Homo sapiens: one gene and its partners. The protein of the gene in region 1 purifies or fractionates together with the protein of each later gene. This does not show direct contact. Each region holds a gene or a part of one and is shown in the gene's direction. Other genes may lie near its edges. The genes, in order: ZAP70, CD5, RASA1, HAVCR2 and ACP1.

Evidence for each region.
Region 2: the proteins of ZAP70 (region 1) and CD5 purify together in Homo sapiens (affinity purification with western blotting, with the first as the bait; one study listed by BioGRID). This does not show direct contact.
Region 3: the proteins of ZAP70 (region 1) and RASA1 purify together in Homo sapiens (affinity purification with western blotting, with the first as the bait; one study listed by BioGRID). This does not show direct contact.
Region 4: the proteins of ZAP70 (region 1) and HAVCR2 purify together in Homo sapiens (co-immunoprecipitation; one study listed by IntAct). This does not show direct contact.
Region 5: the proteins of ZAP70 (region 1) and ACP1 purify together in Homo sapiens (affinity purification with western blotting, with the first as the bait; one study listed by BioGRID). This does not show direct contact.

The regions. Positions count from the first base shown.
Region 1 is NC_000002.12:97,730,563-97,734,081, forward strand, and holds part of ZAP70 (tyrosine-protein kinase ZAP-70), read left to right. Parts: intron 1-2,320; coding exon 2,321-2,459; intron 2,460-2,562; coding exon 2,563-2,650; intron 2,651-2,734; coding exon 2,735-2,781; exon of another isoform or gene 2,782-2,981; coding exon 2,982-3,033; exon of another isoform or gene 3,034-3,519. UniProt on the Homo sapiens protein: Tyrosine kinase that plays an essential role in regulation of the adaptive immune response. Regulates motility, adhesion and cytokine expression of mature T-cells, as well as thymocyte development.
Region 2 is NC_000011.10:61,119,477-61,122,995, forward strand, and holds part of CD5 (T-cell surface glycoprotein CD5 isoform 1 precursor), read left to right. Parts: coding exon 1-99; intron 100-2,134; coding exon 2,135-2,428; intron 2,429-3,430; coding exon 3,431-3,519. UniProt on the Homo sapiens protein: Lymphoid-specific receptor expressed by all T-cells and in a subset of B-cells known as B1a cells. Plays a role in the regulation of TCR and BCR signaling, thymocyte selection, T-cell effector differentiation and immune tolerance.
Region 3 is NC_000005.10:87,375,877-87,379,395, forward strand, and holds part of RASA1 (ras GTPase-activating protein 1), read left to right. Parts: intron 1-516; coding exon 517-689; intron 690-1,004; coding exon 1,005-1,164; intron 1,165-2,519; coding exon 2,520-2,662; intron 2,663-3,519. UniProt on the Homo sapiens protein: Inhibitory regulator of the Ras-cyclic AMP pathway. Stimulates the GTPase of normal but not oncogenic Ras p21; this stimulation may be further increased in the presence of NCK1.
Region 4 is NC_000005.10:157,088,675-157,092,049, reverse strand, and holds part of HAVCR2 (hepatitis A virus cellular receptor 2 precursor), read left to right. Parts: intron 1-3,072; coding exon 3,073-3,109; intron 3,110-3,375. UniProt on the Homo sapiens protein: Cell surface receptor implicated in modulating innate and adaptive immune responses. Generally accepted to have an inhibiting function.
Region 5 is NC_000002.12:267,928-271,446, forward strand, and holds part of ACP1 (low molecular weight phosphotyrosine protein phosphatase), read left to right. Parts: intron 1-3,519. UniProt on the Homo sapiens protein: Acts on tyrosine phosphorylated proteins, low-MW aryl phosphates and natural and synthetic acyl phosphates with differences in substrate specificity between isoform 1 and isoform 2.

The DNA.
Region 1 (3,519 bases):
TTTCAAGCCTCTGCTTGTGTCATGTTTGCTAATGTCCTGTTAGCAAGGCACATGGTCAAGCCCTGATTCAGAAGACAGAGGAGGAGGCCCCACCTATTGATGGGAAGAGCTCCCTAATATTGTGGCTGTTTTCCCCCAGTATTCCACATGGAAGTTTAAATAAACAAATAAGGAGGAAATTATTAGTTCTAGAAGAAAGAATGAAAGAGACAGACAGACTTGGTGGCTCACGCCTGTAATCCCAGCACTTTGGGAGGCCGAGGCAGGTGGATCACGAGGTCAGAAGATTGAGACCATCCTATCTAACACAGTGAAACCCCATCTCTACTAAAAATACAAAAAATTAGCTGGGCGTGGTGGTGTGCACCTGCAGTCCCAGCTACTTGGGAGGCTGAGGCAGGAGAATGGCATGGACCCAGGAGGCAGAGCTTGCAGTGAGCCGAGATCACGCCACTGCACTCCAGCCCGGGCTGTGGAGCGAGACTCGGTCTCAAAAAAAAAAAAAAAAAAAAAGAGACAGAGGAGGGGAGATGGGAGGTTTGCTGTTTGCTGGTGAGTGGCTTGGCATGGAGTCTCTGTTGTCAGTTTAAAACTTCAGGTTGTGACCCTTAGGAGGTGTTTTCACTTCTCACAGTCCCTGGAGACCATCACCTCCAGGCCAGCCTGCCACCTGCCTCTGACTTCCACAGCTCTGAGACCCCCAGGGCCAATAGCCCTCCCTCCTCACTGGAAAGCTGCACTTAACAGGAGCTTGTGCCAGTGACTCAAAATAGAAATGTTTTGTGGGAGATGTTGACTGGTGTCACTGCGGGGTTTCACGTGACGGCGCTGCATCTGCTGTCCCAGCCTACTGTCTCTGTGGGATGTTTGTTTCCTAATTTGTGGTGGGTTCTCTTCCTTGCCCTTTTGTGTGCCCTCATTGCCCCCGCCCTGATTTCCCATCTCTCCATGTTATCTCCAGACTGTTGTGGGCTAGCCTGGGAACTGCCCCACCCTTCACTGCACTGTACTTCGGGGAACGTGCTGTCCAGGAATGGAGAGGATGGTCACAGCTGCACCTCTCTCCCTCACTCAGGGGACATTTCCTAAGGAAGGGCCTTATTGCAAGGTGGGCCCATGGCTGCCTTGCTCACTGCCATATCCCTGCGCTGAGAACAGTGCCTGGCCTGTCAGTAAAGACTTGTCCAGTGAATGAACATCCACAGGCAGGGCCAGGCCTGGTCTGAGAATTTGCACCTTGGAGGGTGCAGCTCGCAGGCCATCACAAGGGCTCTTCTGTAGTGCAGTGCAATCCCTGAGATCAGGAGTCGGCTGCTTCCGGCCTCCACAGCTTCCACGGGGCCAGCTGCCCTCCCTCCTCACTGTAAAGCTACACTTGACCCTGCAATAGAGGCTTGTGCCAGTGACCCCAGACAAAACTGTTGTGTGGGGGATGCTGACTGGTGTCACTGTGGGGCTTCATGCGAGGGTGCCGGTGTCTGACACTAAGTTGGTCTGTGTTGAGGGGGGATGTGTGTACTCAGGGCTGGAGCGGATGGGGGGACAGTTTCTTACCCCACAAATGCACCACCTTTGAGGGGCTCAATTCCCATCATAGACATGGAAGATTTATATATTTATATTGACAAAATTCCAGCAGAAGGCAATCGAGGGTCTCATTCTAGGAAAGGTCCATCTATTATGGAACTGGTCAGTCTCGTGATGAGAAAGTGACTTGTTTTGATTTGCACAGGGGTGCCCTGTAAGCTTGTCATGGAGCTGCGCCTACCTGTGTGGGTCTGTGTGGAAAAGGCTTTCTCTCCCCAGGAGAATGGTGCTAGGTCTACCTGTTGAAGGCTCTGGGTCTGTTGTAGAAGGCCAAGTGCCCCCCATGGTTGGCTGACTGTATGGCCGAGTGTACCCCCAATGAGTGCCTGTGGATGACTATCTCTCTGTGGATGGCAAGTGTCTGGCCGTGGATGGCCAACTGTTCAGCCATGGGGGACCAGGTGTTCCCCAGTGGATGGGTGTCCCCTCCTCCGTGGCTGGGTGTCCACCGTGGGGGGTCAGGTATTCCCCGTGAATGGCCATCTGTTGGCTCTTGGAGAACAGTGCATTTTCCTGGGAACACAGCCATGGCCCCTCCACCGCCCTCTGCCACTTGGCCCATCATCAGCAGATCTGGAGGTGATGGGGGCCTGGCCTGGCTTCCCCAGTCCCTGCAGCTTCTCTGCAAGGCTCTGAGGTGTGGAGCCCATAGGGTGTGTTGCGGGGGAACCGGGGCACAGCAGGAGGCCCCCAGGTGGCTCTAGGGGTTACATCCCCTCCCTTCCCCTGCCAGGCTGAGGCCGCGGAAGGAGCAGGGCACATACGCCCTGTCCCTCATCTATGGGAAGACGGTGTACCACTACCTCATCAGCCAAGACAAGGCGGGCAAGTACTGCATTCCCGAGGGCACCAAGTTTGACACGCTCTGGCAGGTAGGCTGCCCGTGCAACTTGTTCTGGGAGATGCCGTGCTCAGATGGGGTGCCGGGCTCTGGGGAGGAGAGGAGCCTCTCTGCTAGCTGCCTGCTCCCTGCAGCTGGTGGAGTATCTGAAGCTGAAGGCGGACGGGCTCATCTACTGCCTGAAGGAGGCCTGCCCCAACAGCAGTGCCAGCAACGCCTCAGGTGACGGCAGCAGGCGGGCGGGCGGTGGGCGGGGGCGGCAGGAGACCTGGCCCCCAGCCCTCACTGTCCCTTCTGCTCCCCCAGGGGCTGCTGCTCCCACACTCCCAGCCCACCCATCCACGTTGACTCATGTGAGTTGGGGGCACCTGGAGTGTGGCCTTGGGGATGGAGCTGGGGAGTGGCTGTGGGGGAGGCTGGGATGGAGGCTGGGGTGCCTGTGGAGCGGAAGAAGCTCTCTCTCCACTGTCTCTGGGAGTCCTCAGTGGATATAGGTCTCATGAGAGGGGCTGGACGTCCCCAGCTCAGGCCTTGCTGACCCTGTGGCCTTTAGCCTCAGAGACGAATCGACACCCTCAACTCAGATGGATACACCCCTGAGCCAGGTGAGCGGGCAGAGGTGGGGACGCGGGTTGGGGCTCATGCTGAGCCGAGATCAGGGTCGCTGTCAGGGCTGTGGGGTTTCACGGGGGGCGCTGTGGGCCGGGCCAGGCTGTGGCAGTTGGCTTGGTTAACACCTGTGCACACATGTGCCCACACCCATCACACCTGCCTGTGCACATGTACGTCCCAGTGTGTACTGACGTGCAGGGAGCACACTTGGCCTTGCCTGAGGCTCCCCAGACACACGTTTGTTGAGTACCTACTATGTGTCAGTCACGTTCCGAGGTCACTGTGTGTATGAGCCACCGAACCCTCCTGACATGCCTTATGAAGTGGCTATGGTGATTAACCTCACTTTACAGATGAGAGAGGGAGGGGTCTGTCTATGGGGATGTGAGGCAGTGGTAGAGGCGGGATGTGAACCCACGATGGGCCCCAGAGCTCACATTCCTAAAATGGTCTGCTGCGGGTGCTCCTGTTTCTCATGG
Region 2 (3,519 bases), on another chromosome or scaffold:
AATGGAAGATCCAGAACTCAAGCTGTACCTCCCTGGAGCATTGCTTCAGGAAAATCAAGCCCCAGAAAAGTGGCCGAGTTCTTGCCCTCCTTTGCTCAGGTAAGTGAGACCTGGCCAAGCCCCATGACACCTTCTGCTGCCCTAGGTGGGGTCACAGAGCATCCCAGAAGGTCAGGGAACATGTGTGCAGCACAGGGCACTATGGAGAATACAAGGGAAGTGGAGGCCTGGTCTTGGCCTCTAAGAGGTAACAAGGGTTGGGGTGGGGAGGATGCATCCACACTCAATGCCTTGGTAATCTCTGCAAAGCTACACACCCCAAGCCCAAAGGAACCGCTGGCTCAGCTGCCACATGGGGAAGGGGAGTCGGCAGGACTTCCAGGAGGAGGCAAGGTCTCTTCGTGGGTCTGGGGGAGAAAAAAAAATGTCTAGGTAGGAATTATGGCTTGTGCCAAAGATGGGGCACTTGGAGGGGTGGGCCTTGCAGGAAGGGCATTTGTAAATCCCAAGAGTTGGCATTGCAGCAATGGTGAGAGGTGGGAGGTCCCTGAGGCCCGGGAGTCAGAGGACAGCAGGCAAAGAGAGAAACAGAGACAGCCCCCAAGAGGGCTCTGCAGAGGGTCCTGCGCCGTGTGCTGACAAGGTAAAGAGAATGATGCCGCTGTGTGGTTGAGGGGAGGAGGCAGGTGAGACTGAGTCTGTGAGACCCCGGTGGGCCAAACCAGGATCAATGAAGAAAACTAAAGGGAAGAAACCACAGCTGAAACGAAGGGAGAAACGGAGAAACTTCGCAGTACGCCTCCCTCCGGAAGTAGTGGGTTCCCATGGCCGGAAGTGTTCTCAGTGAAGTCCACACTGTACTTACCGAGAGCTTACTTCATGCAGGGACCATTCCTGGACATTCTAAATTTTTCACATGGCCTTAGGAGGTGGGTGTTATTATTATCATCCCTTTTTACAGTGAGGAGGCTGAGGTTTAGAGAGGCTAAACCTCTCGCCCAGTACTATGGAGCACTTGCTGGGATTTCTGTTCAAGCAGGGTCACTCTAGAGCCTGTTATCTGAGCCTTGGTGACTCAGTGTGGTCCTGGAACAGCAGCAGCTGGTTAGAAATGCAGGTGCTCAGGCCCCAGCCTGGACCTTCCGAATCAGAATCCACTTTTCAGCAAGGTCCTCAGTGATTTATGTGCACAAATCTAGGAATCACTGCTCGGGGCCACCTGGCTGTCCTGCAAGCACGCTGGGTACCTGGTGTAAATTAGTAAAATGCTGCCCCTCCCCCAGCAGAAGCAGCTCCCAAGGGGCTCTTGGCCTGATGAGGAGAGCAGGGGCTGGCTCGCAGTCCCACCGGCCCCTCAGCTACTATCCTTCCTGCAGGCTACAACCTGTAAAACCATACCCAGGGTTCTTGCCTTTGAAGCTTCTTCTAAATAGATTTACTAGGGCTTTGAAGGTGGATGTTGCTATGGGAACTGGGCAAAGCTGGTGAGATCACAACTCTCTCTAAACTGAGCATGTGTGGGCCTCAGCTACAGACTCCCAGGCCCCACCCTGGCAGGCAGAAATAAATGTGTGCCTCTGTTGAGCCAGGCCCCACTTGCTGAAAGCCTGGCCCTCAGCGTTCAGTGCCTGGGCAGCACGATCTGTCCCAACTGTGAACTGCCAGGACTCAGGGCAGTAGGTCTTTCCAACCCCCAGGCCTCAGTTTCCCTCTTCTGAAAAGTCCTCCTTCTTCCCAAAGTGCAGCGGGATAATGACAAGATGTTTCCAAGTGAGAAGTGGACCTAGGTGGAGCCTATTTCCCACGCTCTTCTCTTATCTCCACCTGGCATGGAGCCGACTCCCTGCTGGTGGCTGCCAACAGCCTCCCTGCAGAAAGCGCCTATGCTGCTGTGTCTCAGGATGGTGCTGGCAGCTGCCCAGAGGCACCAGAGACAGTGCTGGGTCAGGGGAAGAGCCACAGAGGGTGCCAGAAGGAGGGAAGGGCAGAAAAGAAGGCTGCCTCTCCTGGTGGTCCCACACAGTGCCTTCCCCTAGCCAGGGCCCCGATTTGCCAGTGGCATGGGGCCCCAGGAAGCAGCACACAGGCTCAGGTTCACACTTGCACCCTCCTTTCCCATTGCTTCCCCTCTCAGGTTTCCAGCCCAAGGTGCAGAGCCGTCTGGTGGGGGGCAGCAGCATCTGTGAAGGCACCGTGGAGGTGCGCCAGGGGGCTCAGTGGGCAGCCCTGTGTGACAGCTCTTCAGCCAGGAGCTCGCTGCGGTGGGAGGAGGTGTGCCGGGAGCAGCAGTGTGGCAGCGTCAACTCCTATCGAGTGCTGGACGCTGGTGACCCAACATCCCGGGGGCTCTTCTGTCCCCATCAGAAGCTGTCCCAGTGCCACGAACTTTGGGAGAGAAATTCCTACTGCAAGAAGGTGTTTGTCACATGTGAGTTGGCCACAGCCCACAGTGGGTGGAAGCAGTTACTACTTTACCTCTAGGACCCGGTCAGGGTGCATGTCTCTAAAGGGAAGCCCTGGGGAGCTAGACAGAGAGTCCCAGAGACCCAGAAAGGATGGAGACAGGGAAATTGGAAGGCTAGGGAGCAAGAGTACTCAGACAGCAATGGGCATGAACAATAATAGGAGACAGGGCAAGCAACAGGCAGATCACTGTCAGGCAGCTGATGAGTCATAGAACTTCTCCTTCTACCTTCTACTTTTGCAAGGTGGAAGCCAGAAAATCAAATGGTAGATAGCACATATTTGCTACATGAATGGTAACTAAACGGGAAGTAAAAGAGAGAAATGGATGGATGGATGGATGGATGGATTGGTGGGTGGGTGGGTGGGTGGGTGGATGGATGGATGGATGGATGGATGGATGGATGGATGGATCGGTGGGTGGGTGGATGGATGATGGATGGATGGATGGATGGATGGATGGATGGATGGATGGATGGATCAGTGGGTGGGTGGATGGATGGATGGTTGGATGGATGGATGGATGAGTGGACTGATGGATGGGTGAGTGGATGGATGGATGGATGGATGGACAGAAGGGCGGATGGACAGATGGATGGATGGATCAAGAATAGAGGCCCCGCTGGCTATTGGTATGCAATCATATATTGGTTTCTGATGGTATATGATGGCAAGGTGATCACTAATAACTGGCAAATGGTAGAAAATTAAATAGCTTATAACAAGTGTGGCAAATGATAGCTAGATGATCAACTGTTAGATGACAAATGGTGGGTGGGTGAGTGGGTAGCAGGGAATCCTAGAGATAGATGGAGGGATAGCCAAATAGATCATTGCCTTCCGTGCATGCTGGTGAATTTCTCAGATGAGCAAGGATGACGGCGGAAGCCAGGCAGCCAGCAGCTTCCCTCCCACAGTTTTTCTCCCCCCAGGACTGGGACTGACCTAACTCTTCCTCCTTCCCCAGGCCAGGATCCAAACCCCGCAGGCCTGGCCGCAGGCACGGTGGCAAGCATCATCCTGGCCCTGGTGCTCCTGGTGGTGCTGCTGGTCGTG
Region 3 (3,519 bases), on another chromosome or scaffold:
TTACTTTTACGATAAAATCCAAACCCCATAGTAATGACACAGAACGAAGGCCATACCTTATATTTGAAGTGCTCTTTTTTCTTTTTTCACTACTTTTCTTCTTAGCTACACCTCTAGATCTCGTCCGCTCAAGGGTTACCTGTTTAAAGTGGAGTTTTCACCTCCACAGGCTGAATTAGATATTATTTCTCTGTACTCGAATAGCATTCACCACTGTTAACAGCACTTACCAGTGCTGAAACATAATTGATTTCTTGCCTTCTTGACTAAACTGACCTCTATGCAACTCAAAGAACACATCTCAATCATCTCTGTACTCTCTACCTATCAGAGTTTAGTGCACCGTAGACACTCAGTAAATAAACAACTAAATATTGAATTTGTGATGTTACTGAAAACTCCTTTAATGAAAAGCATTTAACACCATAGGGAAGACTGAACACCAGGAAAATTTACTTGCATGACTAATTATCGTGTTCTCTTTTTAAACAATAATTGCTTGTTTTTCTTCCCAAGTATTTATGCGCTGCCAGTTGAGCCGATTACAGAAAGGGCATGCCACAGATGAATGGTTTCTGCTCAGCTCCCATATACCATTAAAAGGTATTGAACCAGGGTCCCTGCGTGTTCGAGCACGATACTCTATGGAAAAAATCATGCCAGAAGAAGAGTACAGTGAATTTAAAGAGGTATTAAATTATTTATCAGTCTTGTTTTTGTTGGAATTAACAGAAACATTTAACATTTAATAAAAGATCCATTAAGGTAAACATAGTAATTCATAGCTTAGTAGCACAATGATGCCAGAGATTTTAAACCTTGTTTTATACTGTAATTTTGGTAGAAATAAGTAGACTACGAATTCATTCTATTTTAAATAAATTTATTCAATGGGACATCATTTTAAATATAAGAACTTGTGAAAGAACATATTTCTTGTTAGTCTCATGGAGCATGCTTATAATGCTACGTACTTTAAACAATCTTTTAAAATGTCATTTTAGCTTATACTGCAAAAGGAACTTCATGTAGTCTATGCTTTATCACATGTATGTGGACAAGACCGAACACTACTGGCCAGCATCCTACTGAGGATTTTTCTTCACGAAAAGCTTGAATCGTTGTTGTTATGCACACTAAATGACAGAGAAATAAGCATGGAAGGTATGGTATGGCCATGTTAGTGTGATACAAGAAACTGGGTTTAGATTTTATATCAAGGATATATGGACTCTATCTCTGAATATACTAAATTGTTAAATTATATTGCAAAATAAGTTATTCTGTTTTCCCTCCTTAAAAATTGCAGTTGGATGTCAGTTCTGATTATGTTGGTTACTATGGGAAGCTGATATTTCTAATGTAGGTTTTGGCAGATAAGTACTAGAAGCCACAAGAAGGTGGTATCTGTGTCTACATCAATGGCTTGACTGTTTGGCATATTTATCTGTATTCTCTTGTTTTTTATTTTCTTTTGAGATGGCATCTCAGTCGCCCAGGCTGCAGTGCAGTGGCGCAGTCTCGGCTCACTGCAACCTCTACCTCTCAGGTTCAAGCGATTCTCCTGCCTCAGCCTCCTAAGTAGCTGGGACTACAGGCATATGCCACCACACCCAGCTAATTTTTTATTTTATTTTTTTAGTAGAGACGGGTTTTCACCATGTTGGCCAGGCTGGTCTTGAACTCCTGACTTCAGGTGATCCGCCTGCCTCAAGCCTCCCAAAGTGCCGGGGTTACAGGTCTTGTTTAATTTTTACTTCTTCATTACACAGAAGCTGGGTGTCAGCTGCATTTTATTTCTAACTTTTATAGATAGGTAGTTCCCAAGCTGCTGGACACAGTGCTTTTAATGGCTTACAAAATAATCCACCCTCCCCCTGGCCCACACACACCACCAAGCACTTTGATTCATTAACAGTTCTTGCTTCTAGGTTCCCCAAATAAATAGTAAAGTTTAGAACTATTTTCCTCCTCATCACAAAATATAGATTTGTCAAGGAATAGATAAAATGGTGGTCCTTATTTTACACTTGAGTTTATCTTTTCTGACAGCATTTGTATTTCATTAAAATTTTACTGAAACTCAGTAGACATATTTTAAGCTAATAAATTAATCTATACTGGGATTTTGTGTTATATCCTTAATTGTAAATAAACCCTAAAATTTCAAAGCATGGGGTCAATGGGCAGCAAAGCTGATTTATGGTCCTAATTTTATCATTAGCTGTCTAATTGATCTTAAGTCATATAACAATTCTGAGTCTTCATTTTTCCATATGAACATGGCAGTGTTAATCCCTTCTGTTCATGATCTAATGAGGTAATACATATGAAAGTCTTACAGAGTTAAGTCTGTAGAAGTATAGGATGTCATTGTAATTAGTACTTTCAACGCTGCACGCAAAAAGCACATTTAAGTGGCTATTCCTGTTGAGGTAAAATGAATTCACTTAATTTCCAATTTGGTCACATTAGGTCAGTCCTTTACAAATAATCTTCTAATGTAAATATTTGTGTAGATGAAGCCACTACCCTATTTCGAGCCACAACACTTGCAAGCACCTTGATGGAGCAGTATATGAAAGCCACTGCTACACAGTTTGTTCATCATGCTTTGAAAGACTCTATTTTAAAGATAATGGAAAGCAAGCAGTCTTGTGAGGTAAGAATTTAATGTTTTAATAAGTATTTTTGCAAAGAACATATTTTAATAGGTAATAATTTGTAGCCAATTACATTTTAAGGAAAATATATTAAATTTCTAAAATTATTCCTCATAGCAGTTACACCTGTCTGTAATACATTTATAAAAATGTTCTGCAAAATGGACTTCTTAAAAAAGATGTACTTTATTTTGGGATTAAAAACCATCAAGTTGCACCAGAAATTCATGAAAATACTTTGTCATTTCCTCTACTGTACTAATAATCTATATACTACTTACAGAAAGCGTGCATAAGATAAATTGAAGGTTTTGTTAGTGACTCATTATATAACCTATGTAGCACTTCATTACATCTTGGTTTGTTCTTGAAGGTTTTTTTGCGAGGGGAGAATTATGAGATAACCTCAACTAAAACAAAAAAATCTTTTTAGGATTATTAAAGTTTCAGTATAAATTCATAATACACTATTAAGACAGTAAGTGGAATCTCACACACATATTCTCTCATTTTAATGGTAAAGCAACTACAAAGAAATAATATATATTAGATCTGATATAAAAATCAGTTTAAGGAATTGTTTTTGACAATGGACACTGGGACCTAGCAAATGTTAATCCTGCACGAAGGTGTCGATTCATACTAATAACTTGAAGGGAAGAAATTAGTGATTTAATGTTGGAAATGTGGGGTAATGCCATAGTTGGCCTAACATAAGGATGACACAGAAGTGCAGCAGGTAGGTAGGGAGTCTCTGGACTTTAGAGATAGGCTACGGAATTCCGACTTCCATAGATAAATGTACTCTGCTGACACTAGATCAGAAGGGTTACAGGAAAAGTTCTGAGAAAGGTTT
Region 4 (3,375 bases), on another chromosome or scaffold:
ACATATATGCCACTCCAAAAAAACATGGCTACTGAGAAGTACAGATAAGAAAGGCCTGTTTCATTTCCAATCTTTTCCCTGGAAGTTGCTGGAGAAAATATTAAAATCAAGGTGACAGCTTTTTAAGTCATGACCTCACAAAAACAAACTGACACTCAATAATGCCCCACAATCTTCCATCTTTCTAGTGTACTCTCTGAGATGACCATCCATACCTCACTGCTGCTCAAAACTTCTTTGCCCCTCTCCTAACTGATGAAATATGAAAGGGCTTTTTAATCTCCATTGCCTAGGCCAAGACTTCATCCTTCTTTTTATCCCTTTCTTCTGAGTCATCTCTCTCCTTTTCTGTTTATGCTATTTTCATTAGCAGAATATATGTTCTAGTCCATGCATTCCTCTCCAGCTAGTCCCATTTCTCAACTCGTTCTCACAGCCATATTTTTCAAAGGAGTTGTCTCTACTTTTCACCCATCTACACTCCTTGACCCACCATCATCTAGTTTCTGCTCCAAAGCACAACGGAAATGGTCAAGCTCACCACTGACCTTCAGTTTTCTAAATTAAATATTAACAGATACCTTTATCTTTTTTTTTTTTTTTGAGACAGAGTTTCACTCTTGTTGCTTAGGCTGGAGTGCAATGGTGCAATCTTGGCTCACTGCAACCTCTGCCTCCCCGGGTTCAAGTGATTCTCCCCCCTCAGCCTCCTGAGTAGCTGGGATTTCATGCATGTGCCGCCATGCCTGGCTAATTTTGTATTTTTAGTAGAGACGGGGGTTTCACCATGTTGGCCAGGCTGGTCTCAAACTCTTGACCTCAGATGATCTGCCCGCCTTGGCCTCCCAAAGTGCTGGGATTATAGGCGTGAGCCACCGTTCCCAGCCTGATACCTTTATCTTTATTATAGTCAACCTTTTAAATTGATCACTCATTCTAGAAAGTCCTCCTTCTCTTGGCTTCTGAAATGACATTCTTCTCTTTGATCCATTGCTTTTCAGATCTTCTTCTGCCTGATCCTTAGATGTTGAGATTCCTTAGGGCTGGGTATGGTGGTGCACGCCTATCGTCCCAGCTACTCAGGAGAATGAAGCAGGAAGATCACTTGAGCCCAGGAGTTTGAGGCTATGAACTATGATCTTGCTGCTGCATTCTAGCCTGGGTGACACAGCACAGGGAGACCCTGTCTCAGAGAAAAACAACAACAGAAGATTCCTGCAGTCTTCCTCCAACATACATCTAAAGTGTTTTCATTATTCTGCATCTCTTTTGGCCATTCCTTACTCCAAGACACCATTATTTCTACTTAATTTATCTTCTCATTTCTTTATTCCTCCTTCGAATCCAATATTAAAACCCAAATCAATGTCTGAGCACAATGGCTCATGCCTATAATCCTAACACTTCGGGAGGCCAAGACAGGAGAGTCACTTGAGGCCAGGAGTTTGAGACTAGCCTGGGCAACATATTGAGATTCACCCAGGCTGGAGTGCAGTGGTGTGATCATGGCTCACTGCAACCTCTACCTCCCGAGTTCAAGCAACTCTCCTGCCTCAGCCTCCAAGTAGCTAGGACCACGGGCATGTGCCAGCATACCTGGCTAGTTTTTGTATTTTTAGTAGAGATGAGGTTTTACCATGTTGCCCAGGCTGGTCTCGAACTCCCAAGCTCAAGAAATCCACCTGCCTTGCCTCCCAAAGTGCTAGGATTACAGGCGTGAGCCACTGCATCCAGCCCAAAAACATTAAAAAAAATTATCCAGCTGTGGTAGTGTGCACCTATAGTTCTAGCTACTCAGAAGCTGAGATGGGTAGATCCCTTGAGCCCAGGAGTTCAAAGTTGCAATCAGATATGATCTTACTACTGCATTCCAGCCTGGCCAACAGAGCAAGACCCTGTCTCAAAAAAAAAAAAAAAAAAAAAAAAAGAAAAGAAAAGAAAGGAAAATTTTAAGTTTCAAATTTTTGAAACTGCATCCCCAGAAGACACCTTGAAAGACCTTGATCCAGAGGTACCCAGTAAGCCACACCTGGATTCCTGACCCACAACACAGAAATGATGAGATAACGTAGTTGTTTTCAGCGGGTAAAAGAAACCCAAAACAAATAAGGATCACATCTCTGCCCTTCAAGGAAATCTAAGGTTTCCTACAGGTCTTAGAATAAAATCCAGACTCCTGATTATGGCTGGAAAGGTCTTATTGGACCTAGCCCCAGCCTACCTTTCAGACCTTATCTTGGGCCGCTCCCTTAATCCAGCCACGTTTTCAGTTTCAGGTACTCAGCAAGATCTTTACAAGGGGCTCCCTCATCCTGGAATGCTCCTTCTGGCTCTTTACTTGGCTGACTCATTTCAGAAACGAGCTTAAAGTTCATCTCTGAGGGTCCTTCCCTGACCACCCTCTCTATTATCTGTTTCACTATGATGTTGGTTTCCTTTATAATACATCATAATTTGAAATTATTTTGTTTTCCTATTTACTATTTCCTTTTTGTTGTTGTTTTTTTTTTTTTGAGACGGAGTTTCGCTCTCGTTGCCCAGGCTGGAGTGCAATGGCGCAATCTTGGCTCACCGCAACCTCCGTCTCCCGGGTTCATGTGATTCTCCTGCCTCAGCCTCCCGAGTAGCTGGGATTACAGGCATGGGCCACCACATCCAGCTAATTTTGTATTTTTAGTAGAGACGGGGTTTCTCCATGTTGGTCAGGCTGGTCTTGGGTCTGGGGTACTGTTTTCTTTTATTTCTTTGGTCTCCCACAGGAGAGCGTGAGCTTCGTGAAATTAGGGCTCACAATTCACTTTTATGTTCCTGTGTTCCTTGTGCCAGGCAAACTGCCAGACACATAGTAGAGGTCTCATAATATTTGTTAAATAAGAAAAATGCATCTTTATTATTATTTTCTAACACAGTCCATATAACTATCTAAGGCACACGTTGAGAGTTTCATTTAACTCAATCTGAGATGAGACCAGATTTCCCTAAACTATGCGTGCTTCCAGTGAACCTATTTGATTTCTTGTCTCATTTATTTTATGAATGCATTTTTATTGGCTTTTGTTTCCCCCTTACTAGGGTATTCTCATAGCAAAGAGAAGATACAGAATTTAAGGTAAGAATAATGGAATGGGGTTGGGAAAAGGTGAGAATCTTGGAAGTCCCTACTCTAACATGTCTGATCTTTTCTCTGAGAAATCCTGTCCTGGGGCTTTGAGATCTGAGTTTATACTTCCTTCTTTCTCTAGGTCTAGTTATGAAGTGAAAATGTAACATGCTACTGTGTGTACTTCCTGACACCTCTAGCTTCTTTAGTTCTAAAGTTAAGGTATAGAATTTATCACCCTAATAATACAACATGCTTATTCATCTCGATATTAA
Region 5 (3,519 bases), about 97 Mb from region 1:
AATTTTCACATGTCACAAGGTACTCTACTTTTAGATTTTTTCCAACTACTCAACAATGTAAAAATTATTCTTACCGCTGTGGGCTGTACATAAAGGCAGTGGACCATGAGCCGATTTTCAGACCCCTGTTTTAGGTCCAGATCTTGGGAGGCCATGTGAAGACTTGGGCTTACTCTGAATAAACATTGGAGGGTTTTGAGCAGAGGTGGGAAGTGATCAAATTTAAGTTTAAAAAAGAAGAGTTTCAGCTGTTGTTTTGAGATGAAACTGGAGGTGGAGCATGCCTTTACTGGTTGCATTCTGAGGGAATTTGAGCGGTAAATGGCATTTTACTTGGTAGCCATATAGAGGACAGTAAGAGTTGTATGCTTTTGAAATGTAAAAAACTTTGTTCATTCAAAGCATTTGTTTGGACCCTATTGAGATTGAAGTGTAGAAAAGCATCAGAGGTTTTTCATTGGTGAAGCTAATGATGGAAAATAATTGAGCTCCTTACTACAGCACAATTATGAAGGGTGCTTTATGTTTTTGCAATAGAGACTTATTAGTGAAGATGATGCAGGAGCCATGACCCAGCCAGCATGGTTGGTGGAGATAGCACATGCTGGTGGAGTCACTTTACTTCTGGGCTACACCCATACTGGGTGCTGGGTCTCTTACCAGGTATAGCAGACACAGCCCCACCCTCCCAGAGCCTATCTGCCTTTTATGAGTCTCCATCCTTGAATTGAAGATGCTGAAGAAGGGTATAAAATAGTCTGCCTAATTTGGAAAAGACAAACTTGAGACTTTACAGATTGAAACATTTTTTAAAGGCATTTGAAGATGGAATGTTCTGTTTTTAGAACTTGTTTGATAGGCGAAACCTGAAGTACATGCAGTGTTTCACTGATGACCGGGGTGCTCCATTTTTTCATAACAAAATTTGGTGGCATCAACTTTCGAAATCAACAGGGCAAGCTACTGCTAGCCTTTAGGACAGTTAATAATGCAAGTTTTCATATTGTTGTGGGGAAAGTAAGCTGTTATTTTACAGTTAAAGATAATTATTTGTAAACGTGTGGGGCTAGTCTTTATTATATTTTTAGATGCTGAGATACTAGGCATCTGTTGTTCTACAGATCCAAAATAATAATTGTCTTAATTTGGAATACAATGTTTGCTGTTAAAAATATTCCCAGGGTATATGGTGACAAGTAAAAGAGTTACACACCCATGGGAAGCCTTTCAATAATTAAAATAGTGCTGATGACAATACCTGTTTAGAAAACTAAACAAAATTTAGAATGTCGAAAGGAAAAACTTCACAACACAAATTAGCATATAGAGGGTATTCAAGGCTAATTTGTTGTCTTTCCCTTTATGGTTTGTAGGTAAGATTTTTTACTGCTGTGGAAACTACAGTCTCTGTGGGAAAAAAGTACGTAATATGCTTAGGTCTTACAATGTAGAAACTGAAGGCTGTAGTAAGGCAGTGAGTTGGTTTTCTGAACTAGGGAATTAGCTGTGTTTTACAACACTAGAAGATCCTCATTGTATTTGTTTATCATAAACAGAAGACCCTAATAGTGATAAAGAGTAAACTCTTAGTTAGTGCTGCCTATTCTCACAGTTCCTCTTTTTCGTATCTGTTTCCTAAATTCAGCTCCTAATGTCTGGACTCAGTGTGGTGCTTTGGCATTAAGGAGACTGGAAGGCCTCAGAGCAGCCCCAGAAGCAAGGTCGTAGAAACCATCATTTATCTTCCCCAGCGCAGATCATAGAAACTAGAACTCCTCTCCTGCAAAGCAAGCCATAAAACCTAGAAAGATCACTCTCTCCCTTTTGCCTTCTCTTGAAGACAGCATTTCAGAGGGGCCCTGCCTCATTCCTGGGGGAGGAAATGCTGTGGCCCTGCTGGGTTTCCCTCAGTCTGCTACCATTGGATCATTTCCTTTTGTCCAGTGCCATTTCTACACAGCTGTGCATTGGTCATCTAAGCATCAAAACCGTTTCCCTGGGTCTTTGGGTCTTCATTTCTGAAGGCTCTTGTTAACCTGTCTTTTGTTACAGGAGTATCTTCCATGACCTTTATGATGGGTGAGGAAAGCTGCCACACCTTTCCACTCTGACACTGTCTTGTATTTGCTCCTTCATACGAGCCTCTTACAAGGTCTCTCCAATTCAGTCATGTGCTCTTCTAGTGTTTCCTTAGCTGTGCCGGTAATTTTGGTAACTTGTAGGAAGGGTCTGTGTTTTAAACAACTTTCTGTCTTCAGGTTAGGGCACAGTGCTTGGCACATAGAGTTGGCATACAAAATATGTTTGTTGAATAAGTCATATTACCCTTTTCCATAGGACTTTCTATTTCTCCTCATAGTGGCTACGCAAAGTTCAAATGTTGGCCCAGTGTTTTAGGGCTCCTGTATACCAGCCCGTCAGTTTCCAGACACTGGCTCTCTGTACCTGAAGCATCGCAGCCTCACCTGCTTAGTGCCACAATCCCTCTGAGTTAAATGCCTTTCCCTTCCTCTGTCCATTAAGATCCTGATCATCCTTTTAATATCATCTCTAATCTTTCTTTTTTCTGGTAAGAAATTTTCTTATATCTTGTTTTTGCTTTGTAGCATCGTTCTTTTTCTGTGCTGCTGTAGTGTATTGTTTATCAGCATTCATTTTCCCACTTTTATTATAATAAATATAATAAATAAAGTGGAGATAGAGTTCAGCTGAATGGCCAGTGATTCAACCCATTGTGTCTCCCTCCGAAAACCCCAATAAAACCTCAGAGCACTATGGCTCTGAGGAGCTTCCTGGGTTGGCAGTGCTCTTTGAATATTGTCTCATGTTGATGACAGGAGAGTAAGGTGTCCCAGAGGACAGTGGAGCTACCTGTTAGGGAACCTCCCAGAATGTGCCCTATAGGTCACTTGCTTTGGCTGTTTTGTTTGTTTGTTTGTTTTTGTTTTTGTTGCTGTTACTATAATGAAATTGTAATGGTAAGTGTTCTGCTTTCCTGAGTTTGGGGAGTAATTCTAGGGAATTATCAAACCTGAGGGAGCCCTGGGGAACCTGGATTTCTCACTTGCTGGTCTAAAGTAAGGATGGCCCTGATGTCGACATCGTGGTCTGGAGAGTGGTGTCCCTGACCTTGGGCTGCTAATGCCTGGATCTGTATCCCTGGGCTCAGGGCTTTGCATGTGATCGCTCAGTAAATGTTGGTGTTGAATCGCTGTTTATGCTTAAATGCATGTTTGTGTGTTTGTGTATTGTTTTGTGAAACAGTAGTCATCCTTATGTGTGATATACTTGAAAATACATACAGTTGACCCTTCAGCCACAGGGGTTTGAACTTTGAAGGATTTATTCGAGGAATTTTTTTAATCAAGCACAGATGGAAAATACCGTGTTGTCTGAATGAGAAACCCATCTGTATGGAGGGCTGACTTTTCCTATACTTGGGCTCCACATTCTCAGGGGCCAACTATAGGACCTGAGTATGCACGTTTTGGTATACTGGGTAGGGGTGGGAGGGTGTCC